3 separate regions of the Homo sapiens genome follow, and regions 2 and 3 are each linked to region 1. Evidence: fine-mapped expression QTL. A gene starts in region 1. Each other region holds a variant in brackets. All regions are shown on one strand. Distances are from middle to middle.

What was found. PIP is the estimated chance that this variant, and not a neighbour inherited with it, causes the effect. A credible set is the group of variants that fine-mapping cannot tell apart.
Region 2: its variant is the best candidate, but not a certain one, in a credible set for the expression of INPP5F in whole blood (INTERVAL, PIP 0.69).
Region 3: its variant is the best candidate, but not a certain one, in a credible set for the expression of INPP5F in testis (GTEx, PIP 0.52).

What each region holds. Positions count from the first base shown.
Region 1 is chr10:119,724,398-119,728,635 of GRCh38, forward strand. INPP5F (inositol polyphosphate-5-phosphatase F) reads left to right here and starts at 1,653. Exons shown (of 20, transcript NM_014937.4): 1 at 1,653-1,962. The coding sequence starts at 1,866. RefSeq lists an enhancer at 652-701 and a silencer at 1,312-2,081.
Region 2 is chr10:119,698,145-119,702,382 of GRCh38, forward strand. No RefSeq gene overlaps it. Among named protein-coding and RNA genes, the nearest start is that of INPP5F, 26 kb to the right of the region's middle. The variant C/A (reference allele first, on the strand shown) is at 1,861.
Region 3 is chr10:119,688,120-119,692,357 of GRCh38, forward strand. No RefSeq gene overlaps it. Among named protein-coding and RNA genes, the nearest start is that of INPP5F, 36 kb to the right of the region's middle. RefSeq lists enhancers at 1-390, 3,464-3,963. The variant C/T (reference allele first, on the strand shown) is at 1,695.

The DNA.
Region 1 (4,238 bases):
TTCACATCTGGCAATGTAATTCATAAAACAATAATGAAATAATTTGCAGGATACAATGTCTTCATAGGATTTTCTCATTCTCATTTTTGCTAAGTCAACACATGGCTGAATTAAACAATCAATCTGAAACCGATGGTTCCACTGAAGCTTCTTATAGCTTCATTACCTTCTTTCTCCAAATCACATCACAAAGATTTGATAGAGTAACCACCTCCCTCGACCTTTATGTTGAGGTGTCTGGACAGCACAGAGGCATGGTACTTAGAAAAGATTCCAGGACGCTTTGTTATCATTGGACTTTCTGTGCTATGGAAATTCAACACTGTGGGCTGGAATAACTAGTCATGTGGAACTCCTTCCTGCTTTTGTACCCTCTCACTTTTACTTGAGCAGAAGGTTAAAAGTATTGCTTTCTGAGAAGTCCCATTCGGTCACTCCTCTCTCTCGCAAGAGAGACAGCTGTTCTCCCTTTTCTTTTGCCTATAAACTTCCGCTCCTAAACTAAAAAAAAAAAAAAAAAAAGTATTGCCTTATTTTTCTCATCTCCTACTTCTTGTCTTTTTCTCTTGTTTCCGATTCAGGCATTAGAGAAGGCAAGGAGTTAGGAGTAGGAAGACTCAATGATTTATAGAACTGGGGGTGTCATAAAAGGTCATTAGTTCAACCACCATCTGAGACCAAGAGACTTCCCCAAGATCACACAGCTAGATAGTCCTCGAACTGGCCCCGGAAGTGGGGGCCTCATTCTCCAGACCCATTCTGTTCAGGATATCAACTGGTTTTTCAAGACAGACTGAGCTCAAGGATGTTTGGGGGAGACTCCTCCTTCCCCGAGAGGGTCTCCATTCATCTTATCCTCGCCAAACGATATTCCTTCCGCTTGCTTCATTAACTGGCTCCATTTGTGAAGTCTTCTCCAAACCGCCCTGCTTAATTCGGGACACAGCAGCACCTGTACATTCCTCCCTTCCTCCTCGCTCTTTAGCCGCGTGCTGCTAATGCTTGTGTGTTTTCTATTGTTACATGCTTTCCCTCGTTGATGTGCATTTATTGAATGCCTCCTGTTGTCAAACTTCTAATAGGGAATACGAAAACAGAAGACGCCTCCGCTTGGCTGTGGGCCTGGCTGGGGATGAACCCCTGTAGCCAGGCCCCGGGGTCTCGCCTGGTTTCGGTACGGGCAGGCAGCGCAGGCCCGCGGGGAACGTACCCCGCACCGCTCCGGGAGAGCGGGTGTGGGGTTGGATTCAGGTCTCGGCCTGGCGAAGCGTGAGCGCCTCCCTGCACGGAGGGGAGGCCCCAGCGGTGGGCGCCTGTCCCCAAGGCCGCGCGGAGGGAGGCGGTCAGTCCAGACCGACTCGGCCGAGCTCCCGAGCTGCCACCGGTGACCACGACAGGAAGGCTGGCGCGCCGGGGGAGGGGCCTGGGCAAGAGCGGGAGGGGCGGGCGGAAGGACGAGAGGGAGGAGGAAAGACCCGCGGGGAGGAGCTGGGAGGAGACACCCGGGAGAAGGCGGAGGAAAGGGCAGGAAGCGGGAGGGAGCTGAAAGGAGGAGGAGGCTGAGGGGCGGAGCCGGGCGCTCGGGGAGAGTAGCCAGCAGAGGGGGTGGAGCCGGGCCTGGGGCGGAGCCAGGGAAGGGGAGGAGCGGGGGGGAGAGGCCTCTACGGCCGCCGCTGCCGCCGCCGCTGCCGGGGCGCGTTCTCCTCCTACCGGTCGGGTGCCCCGGGGCGTTCCCTCTGCCGCTGCTTCTCGGCGCGGTTCCTACCCGGCCGCTCCCCGAGGCGCGGGCTCTGGCGGCCTCGACCGACTAGGACGCCCCGTGCGCCGCCCGCGGGCCGCCGCCTCCCTGGGCGCGCGGGGCCAGCATGGAGCTCTTCCAAGCCAAGGACCACTACATCCTGCAGCAGGGCGAGCGCGCGCTGTGGTGCAGCCGCCGCGACGGCGGCCTCCAGCTCCGACCCGGTGAGGCTGGCGGTGCGGGCGGGGGGCACCCCGGGCCAGGGCGGGGAGAGGAGGGGGCGCGGCCGGACCCCTCAGCCGGGCGGGAGGAGCCGCCTGCGGGCCTGGTGAGGCGGGGCGGGGCGGGCTGCGAGCGCGCGAGCTGTCATTATTCCCTGACTGGAAGGAGCCTGGCCTTTCTCCGAGACAGCGCCGAGCCCCTACCCCAGTGCGGAGCAGAAGGGGCTGGCGACCCTCGTCCTTCCCACCGCGTCACGCGGCCGCCCTTGGGGCTTGGGGCCCAGGCCGAGGGGAGGGGGTCCCCTCCGGCAGAAAGTTCCAGCAAGGTGCACCTGGCCGTAAAGGCCTCTTCCTCCTTGGAGTAGTTCTTACATGGCCTTCGCCAGAAGTTCTGGGTTCGAATTCCGATCTGGAGCGGTTGCGCCAGTTCCGTCTAGGGCTCTGCTGGACACTCACTCCCTGTTGCCATCCCGTGTGTTCTTGGTCCCTTATTATTAAAGGTGTGACTTTACTGTGGTTACCTCATAGGCACTCGGTTTAAAGCCTTTGTCTTTGACTTTAATACCACAGCACAATTAAATTGTATTGTAATGTATAATTTTGAGATTTTTGTGTGACTTGATGTTGTGCGACACAAAATGTATTGTGGGTCCATGTTTGGGTGTCATGTAAGCTGTTCGGAGAGGCTTAAGTCTGCAATTAGCTTGCTTTAGGAAAATGTGTGTGCAGTCGTGGTTTAAACAGAGCAGTCCCTGCCCTCAGAGCGCTGACAGTCCAGTTTCTTGTAAGATGGGGCTGGGTGGCACCTGCCCCTTTTGGCTTGCTAATCCTTTCCTCATATCACTCAGAGATTCTTCCACTTTAGGGAAAGCGAGAGGATAGAGTTCTTTAAGGAAGGAGCCAGAGCTTTTCAGACTTACTTGTAATTCTTATGTGCAGTCTAGACAGAAGGATTACATGATATGAATTGAAAAGGATAAAAGGTTCAGATGAGCTTTTCAGATCACAGCGTGGTATCACTTATAGGATGGTTTTTAAGGACAGGCCCTTTAACATATTATTTCCAATCCCCACAGCAACCTTACAGGACACGTGTGGGATCCTCTTTTTCAGGTGAGGAGAAAGGAGTGAGAGGTTATTAGTAACTCGTTCGGGGTCACAGCCTAGAGTTGAGACACTGACACAGGGCAGTTCTGTGACCTCCAGAACACTTTTGGGCAGGCCCCACTGCTTTCTTAGGAAGGCCTACTAGTTGCTTTGCCAGAGCAGTGAAGGATAACTTATTTTTTTCCTCAGGCTCTGTCTATATTTTCTTGCTATTACGTTGTATTTCCTCTTTTCAGAATGGAGGATAAACTCCTTGGCCCAGATAAAGTTCTTGATGATCTCGGGATAGAGTTATTATGGATAGGCTAATTTTGGCCAGTCTTCTGTCATTCTCTTCTCTGATTTGACCATTTGTCTGGCTTTCTCCCCTTCCCTCCTTTCACTCCCCCAAATTTGGGTAAGGCTTCAGTACAGCTTGAAGTAAAGCAGATTTCAAAATTCCTAGGTTGTCAAAAGAGTCAACTCCTTGGATTCTAAAAGCTTAGACTATTAGAACTGGATGGGACTTAAGATCGTCTCCAACTCATCTGACAACAAACTTTTCTACACCCCAGTTTCTTGAACTATAAAGGCTAACCTGCGCCTAGATTCTTGGATGAAGCCATGCAGTTTGGATTACTGTTTGTTCAAAGTCCATGTCAGAAGGCAAATTTAAAACTTTTTTGGGGGAGGAAAGTAGCTATAGCCTTTGCACTTGAGATTGGCATACTTTTTAGAATATAGCGGGCCACAGACCAAGTAGACCAAATGTCTGGAGGAAGGAAGAGGCCATGTTTCAGAAGTAACAGCCAGTTTTGATCTTAAGGTGTTCAGGATAGCCAGGGAATAAAGAATCCCATGCACTTGATTTTCCTATAGTTTATCCTGTCCAGGACTGAAGATCCTTTCTAACTAATGGCTATTTAAGAATGGCATTTTAATTGAATAAGTGCTTTTCAGATCTTTTTCTGTATATGGAATCATTTAAAATTCTCTTTATTTTATTGGACTTTTCCCCTGTGCTTTTATGGCAAGTTTTGCTGCTGTTTGTAGTGACAGCATTTAAAATCTTTCATTGTTTCCTACTGGTTATTTAGCTGAATAGATTACTAAGTCCTTTTCTTTTTTGAAAGGGCAGTATTATAAGCTCAAAAAAGCTTGTGGGCATCGTGGTTTTTACATTCGTGACTATT
Region 2 (4,238 bases), 26 kb before region 1:
GCAGGGCCATGCTCCCTCTAAAGGCTCCAGGGAAGAATCCTTCCTGCCTCTTCCAGCTTCTGGTGGTCCCAGGTGTTCCTTGGCTTGTGGCAGCATCGCTGTAATCTCTGCCCCCATCTTCACGTGGCCTTCTTCTCTGTGTTCCTCTACGTCCTCTCCTTTCCTTATAATGACACTAGTCATTGGATTTAGGGTCCACCCTAAGTTCAGGATGAGTTCATCTCCAAATCCTTAACTAATTACGTCTGTAGGGATGCTGTTCCCATGTAAAGTTGCATTCTGAGGTTCTGGGTGGATATGAATTTTTGGGAGATCCTATTCGACCCACGACAACTACCATATGAACTCTAAGCTGCCTACATACAGCTGTTCAAGAAAGGAAAAAATAACTGTTTTCTCTGTTTATACCATTATTATTTGGGGTCTCTGAACCCATATCCCAACCAATAGAGTCATTTTAGGGGGCACGCCTGTGGAGCCTGCCAGTGACTGCTCTTGGGTGACTGCCTGCCCCACTCACAGCAGGGGCTGGAGGGCGGCAAGACCTTTCTCCAGTGACCATGTTATTGGGCCACAAGCACACACTTAACCCAAGCTAAAGCAGTAATACTTTCTTTTGAGGGGTTTGAGACTTTAGGGAATTAGCCTGAGAGACAGCCAATACCTGAACTTATTGGCCTCTTGAATGGAGGAAAAATTACTTTATGGATTATGGGATAGTGACCTTCTGTTTATCATGTGAAGAGAGAAGCAGAGAAAACTGATCTCTACATGAGAAAAAAAGAAACAGATGTTCCAAGAGGGGAAGAGATGTGATTCTGACAGGGAGTCTGAGTGGTTCTCATTCTTGGTTTTGGGGCTGACCCGAGGCTTGGCTGCATTTGTACTGACTGCTTAGCATGAGTCAGGGCCAAGTGCTTTACCTGCATTACCTGGTATTCGGTCCAAATAATATACCCTAGACCAGTCGTGGTGGCTCCTGCCTGTAATCCTGGCCCTTTGGGAGGCCAAGGTGGGCAGATCGCTTGAGCTCAGGAGTTTGAGACCAGCCTGGGCAACATGGTGAAACCCCATCTCTACAAAAAATACAAAAATTAGCTGAGCATGATGGCGTGTGTCTTTAGTCCCAGTTACTCGGGAAGCTGAGATGGGAGGATTGCTTGAGCCGGGAGGCAGAGTTTGCAGTGAGCCACGATCGTGCCTCTGCACTCCAGCCTAGACGACAGAGTGAGACCCTGTCTCAAAACAAAACAACGAAAACAAAAACAAAAACAAAAACCAATCTATCCTAGCTTCTGCAATGTTTCAGTGGCTTAACTCAACACGAGTTTATTTATTGGCTCACATGAAGTCCATAGTGGTCAGGCAGCCCCCTCCTAGCTTGTACCACTATCATCTGGAATAGTGGTCTATAAGGTTGCCGGAGTAGAGGAAGAAAGAGATAGAGGAGGTATAGTTCCTCTTCTTCTCTTTTTGAGAGTGCCTATTTATTTTATTCTATAATTATATAAAATATCTACACAATTTCAAAATCTAATCTACAAAGCAAGGTATATTCAAATAAGTCTAGCTTATATCCCTGTGTTCTCCAACCTGTTCCCTCTTTTCCACTAAAGTTAGCAATTTAAAATTTATATTTATTTTTCCTTGTAATACATAAGTAATAATATACCTAGATTTATCTCCCTCCTTACTCAAAACTATACACATTTTCCCTACCTTGCTTTTTTTTATGGTAAAATATGCATAACATGATGTTTACTATGTTAACTTTTTTTTTTTTTTTTTGAGACAGTGTCTCTCTCTCTCTCTCTGTCACCCAGGCTGAAGTGCAGTGGCGTGATCATGGCTCACTGCAAC[C/A]TTCACCTCCCTGGTTCAAGCAATTCTCCTGCCTCAGCTTCCCGAGTAGCTGGGACTACAGGCACGTGCCACAATGTCCAGCTAATTTTTGTATTTTTAGTACAGACAGGGTTTCACCATATTGGCCAGGCTGGTCTTGAACTCCTGACCTCAGGTGATCCACCCGCTTTGGCCTCCCAAAGTGCTGGGATAATAGGCATGAGCCACCGCGCCTGGCCGGATTCTTTCTTTCTAACTGGTAATATTCTTGTGCTGCTTTTCAAAATTAGAATTAGAATATTGGCATTAAAAGAACCCTGAATCCAGTGTTAAGTCGATCTTCTAATTTAACTTTCTCTAGACCACATATTTATTTCAGTCAACATTTATTAGACACAGTGCATTGAGCACTTAGGATGCATCAAGAACTGTGGGGACTGTGGGGACACAACATTGAATAAAATTTGCTTCTACTCTAATTAGTGAAAAACATCAGATTGTAATTACTTGTTTGACCTATGACCCAAATGTTTTATTATTAGATTGTGCTACTGACTGAAATCTATGAGTATACCGTGAGCATAGTTTTGAGTTGTAAAATTTCACTTCCTCTTTCTTTCTCCACACTTTTACTATTGGTAATACTGTATCAAAATTTCCCCTTTTCTTCTTTGTATTTCTCTTTTTCATAAAATTAAATAAGAATACCGCATTTCACAGATTTCATGAAATCATCTGCCATCTACTCAGAAAAATGACATCTCAAACCTTTTAAGCACCAGAATAACTAAATCCATACTTGCAGTGAGCCGAGATCACACCACTGCACTCCAGCCTGGGCAACAGAGACTGTGTCTCAAAAATAAAAATAAATAAATAAATCCATACTTGATGGCCCAGAGCCTAAGATTTGACATTAGTACGCAGCACAAGAGATCAGCAGGTATGGCAGGGATATGAAGATGTCTTATGTGAATGTGGCATTAGATCTAAAGAAGGAATTGGAGCTGTATTCAGGTAATCAGGACATTTGGGTTCCAGTGCCAGGTCCTCCCACAAATTAACTGGAATACTTTGGACAAATTCCCTAAACATTAGCTCTTCATCTGTAAAATGATGCTGCTAAACTAACTGAAAATCCCTTTTCATATTAAATTTCTACACTTTGATGATTCTAGAGAGAACCATAAGAAAGAGAGAGTGAAATAGCTGGGACAATTAGGAAACTGAAGAAGAGGGAAAAAATGGGGGCAAAGGACAATTCTAAGAACAAAGAAGGTGATAAAAATAATTCAGAACAGCAGAAAGTGAGATAGTAAAGTAAAATATGGTAAAAAGGAGAAAATAAAACATTAAATATTTTCTTGGAATTACAAAGATAAATCACATGAGATTTCATTTTTAAGCCCAAAGAGAAAGAAGAAATCTGGTTATTTGTATTTCTCTTGCATAAAGAGGCAATCTTCAGGAGTTATTTTGACGTGTCTCTCTATGGTTTCTCAATTCTAAAGAAAAAGAAAAGCCGGGCGCGATGGCTCACGCCTGTAATCCCAGCACTTTGGGAGGCTGAGGCGGGTGGATCACGAGGTCAGGAGTTTGAGACCAGCCTGGTCAACATGGTGAAACCCCGTCTCTACTAAAAATACAAAAAATTAGCCAGGTGTGGTGGCACATGCCTGTAATCCCAGCTACTCAGGAGGCTAAGGCAGAAGAATCACTTGAACCTGGGAGGTGGAGGTTGCAGTGAGCCAAGATCGAGCCACTGCACTCCAGCCTGGGCGACAGAGCTAGACTTCATCTCAAAAAAAAAAAAAAAAAGAAAAGAAAAGGAAAAAAAAAAGAGAGCTGATGTCTATCTCTTTGAGCTGTCAGATTGTTAAAACTAGCACATAGCAGTTATTGAGTGAACAAATGCTTTTGTAGGAGAAGGTAGAGAAAGAATATTGTGGGGTAAAAGGAGGTAATTGGGGTCAGGAATGAATCATTCAATTTCGTTGGATTGCTTCCAGACTCAGAAAGAATGCTTACATTTCATGATTTCATCCAACCTCCAAACAACGCCCGGGACAGATCAGGGGAATAATGCTTAGCTCTCAGCCACCTGACTTCCATGACAATGGGTCCCTGTTGTGGGGTGTTGTATGAGTGGCTTATTCTGATTCTGTTGGTCGGTCAGAAATTTGCTGAGGTGCAGAGGCAGCACTGCACAAACGGAAAACGGTAGCTCCTGAACAAACCGCTGCTTGGTGCAAAAGAAAGGAAGGAAGCTTCTGTCCCTGGCCTTTCTCATCCCATCCTCTACTCCTTTCACCTGTCCTAGTTGTGTTGCTCTTGGGGTCAGAAGTAGGGTGCATATGCCTGTATCTGTAGTTTACCCTTTACCCTCTTAGGGTCCGTGA
Region 3 (4,238 bases), 36 kb before region 1:
ACTTCCTGATGTTGTTATGGCATTTGTAAACTGTCATGGTGCAAGTGGAGTGTGGCAGTGATGACAACCAGAGGTCACTGTTGTCACTATCTTGGCTTTGGTGGGTTTTAGCCGGCTTCTTTACTGCAACCTGGTTTATTAGCAAGGTCTTTATGACCTGTATCTTCTGCTGACCTCCTATCTCATCCCATGACTTAGATTGCCTAACCTTCTAGGAATGCAGCCCAGCAGGTCTCAGCCTTATTTTACGCAGCCCCTACTCAAGATGGAGTTACTTTGGTTCAAACGCCTCTGATAATTGGATTAGGGCAAGCTTTCGCAACCTCAGTGCTATTGACACTGATAAATTGACATTATCAGTGGACCATCCTATGCAATGTTTAGTATTCCTGGCTTTTAACCACTGGATGCCAGTAGCACCTCTCCTTCCCCAAATTCTGACAACCAAACTTTCTCCAGACATTGCCAAATGTCCCCTGGTGGGGAAAATCACCTGTGGTTGAAAACCACTGGATTAAGGGTGCCTGCCCAGACCCCAACTGCCTTCCAGAAGCAAAAATAAATCTTACTATCATCTAGGGCCTCAAATTATATCTGTAATTTTTCATACATGATATGCAGCACTTAATAAAGAACAAAGCTTTAAAATACATAACAAAGTTGACAGAACTAAAAAGAGAAATAGACAAATCCACAATCATAGTGGGAGATGTTAAGACACATTTCTGAGAAAATGATGGACTAAGCAGAAAAAAAAAATCAACAAGGTTAGGGTAACAGGGTAAACTACGGAGAGAAGTATCTGGAGGAAAAGAGAAAGGTATCAGGTCTGGGTGCGTGAAAGAGGGGTTGGCAGGAAGGGGGGTATTGAGCGCAGATGGAGAAATGGAGAGAAAAGGAGGGTCTTTGTGGGCCCCCTCTTTCTGGAGGCTTAATTCTATAAGACCTTTTCCGCATGAACGGTACAAGGGAACTGTGTCGTTTCCTTTGTTCCTTCATCCAGACTATACTGGCTGCTCTGTGAAATCTATCTGTACCTCCAGTCTGCCGGAGGCATGTGAACCAGAGCAACTTCACCTTGAATAGGAGCTGGGTAAAATGAGACTGAAACCTACTGCACTGCATTCCCAGAAGGTTAGGCATTCTAAGTCACACGATGAGATAGGAGGTCAGCACAAGATACAGGTCACAAAGACCTTGCTAATAAAACAGCCTGCAGTAAAGAAGCTGGCCAAAACCCACCAAAACCAAGATGGCAATGAGAGTGACCTCACTGCTACACTCCCGCCAGCACCATGACAGTTTACCAATGCCATGGCAACATCAGAAAGTTACCCTATTTGGTCTCAAAAGGGGAGGCATGAAGAATCCACCCCTTGTTTAGCATATAATCAAGAAATAACCATAAAAATGAGCAACCAGCAGCCCTTGGGGCTGCTCTGTCTTTGCAGTAGCTATTTTTTTTTTTTTTTTTTTTGAGATGGAGTCTTGCTCTGTCACCCAGGCTATAGTGTAGTGGCATGATCTTGGCTCACTGCAACCTCCGCCCCCCTGGGGTTCAGGCAATTCTCCTGTTTCAGCCTTCTGAGTAGCTGGGTCTACAGGCGCGCGCCACCACGCCCTGCTAATTTTTGTACTTTTAGTAGAGACAGGGTTTCACCATACTGGTCAGGCTGGTCTCGAACTCCTGATCT[C/T]AGGTGATCTGCCCATCTCAGCTTCCCAGAGTGCTGGGATTACAGACGTGAGCCACCATGCCCGGCCTTTGTTTTCTTTTCTTTTCTTTCTTTTTTTTTTTTTTTTTGAGACAGAGTCTCACTCTGTCACACAGGCTGGAGTGCAGTAGCGCGATCTCAGTTCACTGCAACCTCTGCCTCCTGGGTTCAAGCGATTCTCCTGCCTCAGCCTCCTGAGTAGCTGGGATTACAGGCGTGCGCCACCACACATGGTTAATTTTTGTATTTTTAGTAGAGATGGGGTTTCACCATGTTGGTCAGGCTGGTCTCGAACTCCTGACCTCATGATTCTCCCGCCTTGGCCTCCCAAAGTGCTGGGATTACAGGCGCCTGGCCACAGTAGCCATTCTTATATTCTTTACTGTCTTAATATACTTGCTTTCACTTTACTCTGCAGACTCACCCTGAATTATTTCTTGCGTGAGATCCAAGAATACTCTCTTGGGGACCCCTTTCATTGTGGACTCCGTAGCAGCCAGTGGGGTTTGGGTTGGCAAAGACTAGTGAGGCGGCCAAAAGGGTGGTAAGCACATTCTGATCAACTGGGAGAGTGTCTCCAGCAGAGCTGCAGCCCTCCACCCCTGCCATGGAGGTGCTACCAGGTGTCACTAAACTTAGAGAGTCCTATGGTCTGAGGCAGTTTCAAAATTGAGAGACAGTAAGACTGAATATTTAATTCCTGTCTCATCTCTCCTCACTGTATTTTAGCAAGAAGTACTCCAGGATACAGAAGAGGAGCCTGTCCTACCTGGATTACACAGGTATATTGATACCTACTATACGGCAGACATTATTCTAATTGTTGCTAAGAACAGAGAGTAGGCCAGGCACGGTGGCTCTTGCCTGTAATCCCGGCACTTTGGGAGGGCAAGTCGGGAGGGTTGCTTGAGCCTAGGAGACCAACCTGGGAAACGTGGTGCGACCTTGTCAGTGATCCTGAGGTGAGAGGATCACTTGAGCCCAGGAGTTCGAGGCTGCAGCAGTGAGCCATGATTGTGCCACTGCACTCCACAGCCTGGGTCATAGAGTGAGACCCTGACTCAAAAAAAAAAAAAAAGAAAAGAAAAAGAAACACAGTGAGTTTAAGACTGGAATATAAAGATGGGTAAAGCCTATCCATTGTCTTCAGGCCTAATAGGGGTAAGGGGGTTAGGGCAGTGAATCGAGTAAACCAGCAGTTTGAATACGGTATGCTGGGGCAACTCAGGACAGAGCACAACAGGCTAAGAAGATGAAGAGTAATCGGGTGCTGGAGGGGAGAGAGAGAGAGAGACAGCAGATAAGGGGAATCTAGTTAAGAGTCTGAAACGGGAAGAGGATCTTCTGGGGAGCAGGAGTATTGTGAACAAAAGCCTGCAAGTGTGAAAGCATGAAGTGCATTCAGGGAAAATTGTATCCCACAGGTATTACTGAATGCCTACTCTATACCTGGCACTGTGCTAGGAGTTCAATGTACCTCGACGAACAAGACTCAGTCCTTCTCCGCAAATTGGTCAGGGATCTTTAGTAGGGCAGATTGAAAAGGAATGGGGAGCCGTTCTACAGTGAGCTGTCTGGAGGAGCTGGGGCATAGAGTGTTTGCAAACAAGTAATGAGTAACGGCCAGGCGCGGTGGCTTTGGCTGGGTGCGGTGGCTCACGCCTGTAATCCCAGCACCTTGGGAGGCCGAGGCAGGCGGATCACGAGGTCAGGAGATTGAGACCATCCTGGCTAATGTGGTGAAACCCCGTCTCTACTAAAAATACAAAAAATTAGCCGGGCGTGGTGGTTGGCTCCTGTAGTCCCAGCTACTTGGGAGGCTAAGGCAGGAGAATGGCCTGAACCCGGGAGGCAGAGCTTGCAGTGAGCCGAGATCGTGCCACTGCACTCCAACCTGGGCAACAGAGTGAGACTCCATCTCAAAAAAATAAAAAATAAAAAAGAAGTAATGAGAAACATGCCTGTTAGGTTACGAGGGGCTGTTGTATGCCTTGACACTGAAGGTGAAGACAGCCAGAATATAACCAGCTCCACCTTTGAAGCTCTGTATTAGAGCTGGCTGCTGCTCAAGAGTCCCACCACAAGTGATCACACACAGCTGTCAATGCCTCCTGGAAGTGACTTAGCAAGTCTGGGAGGCATTTGAAGTGAAATATCAGGCATCCAACCCAAGATGCTAGCAGCCTGATTAGAAAGGCAGGGTTGATGAAGACAGGGCGGGAGTCGCTGTGGCTCCCCTCTTTCCAGGGAGGTAAGAAAGAGGCCTCTGAGAGGAGACCCACCCTGTCCTGGGGAGGCCGAGGGCCCAATGCATTGGTGCCAATGACATGGGGCTCACAGTCTCTGTTCAAAGATGATCCCACCATCCACCTCTTCTGAGACCTTGATTTTTCAGTTGTCCCAGCTCTCTTGTGTGTCCAACTTCTCCTCTTGATTTATCCCCAGCAACATTAATATATCTTTAAGTTAATAGGCTAGGCATGGTGGCTCACGCCTGGAATCCCAGCACTTTGGGAGGCTGAGGCA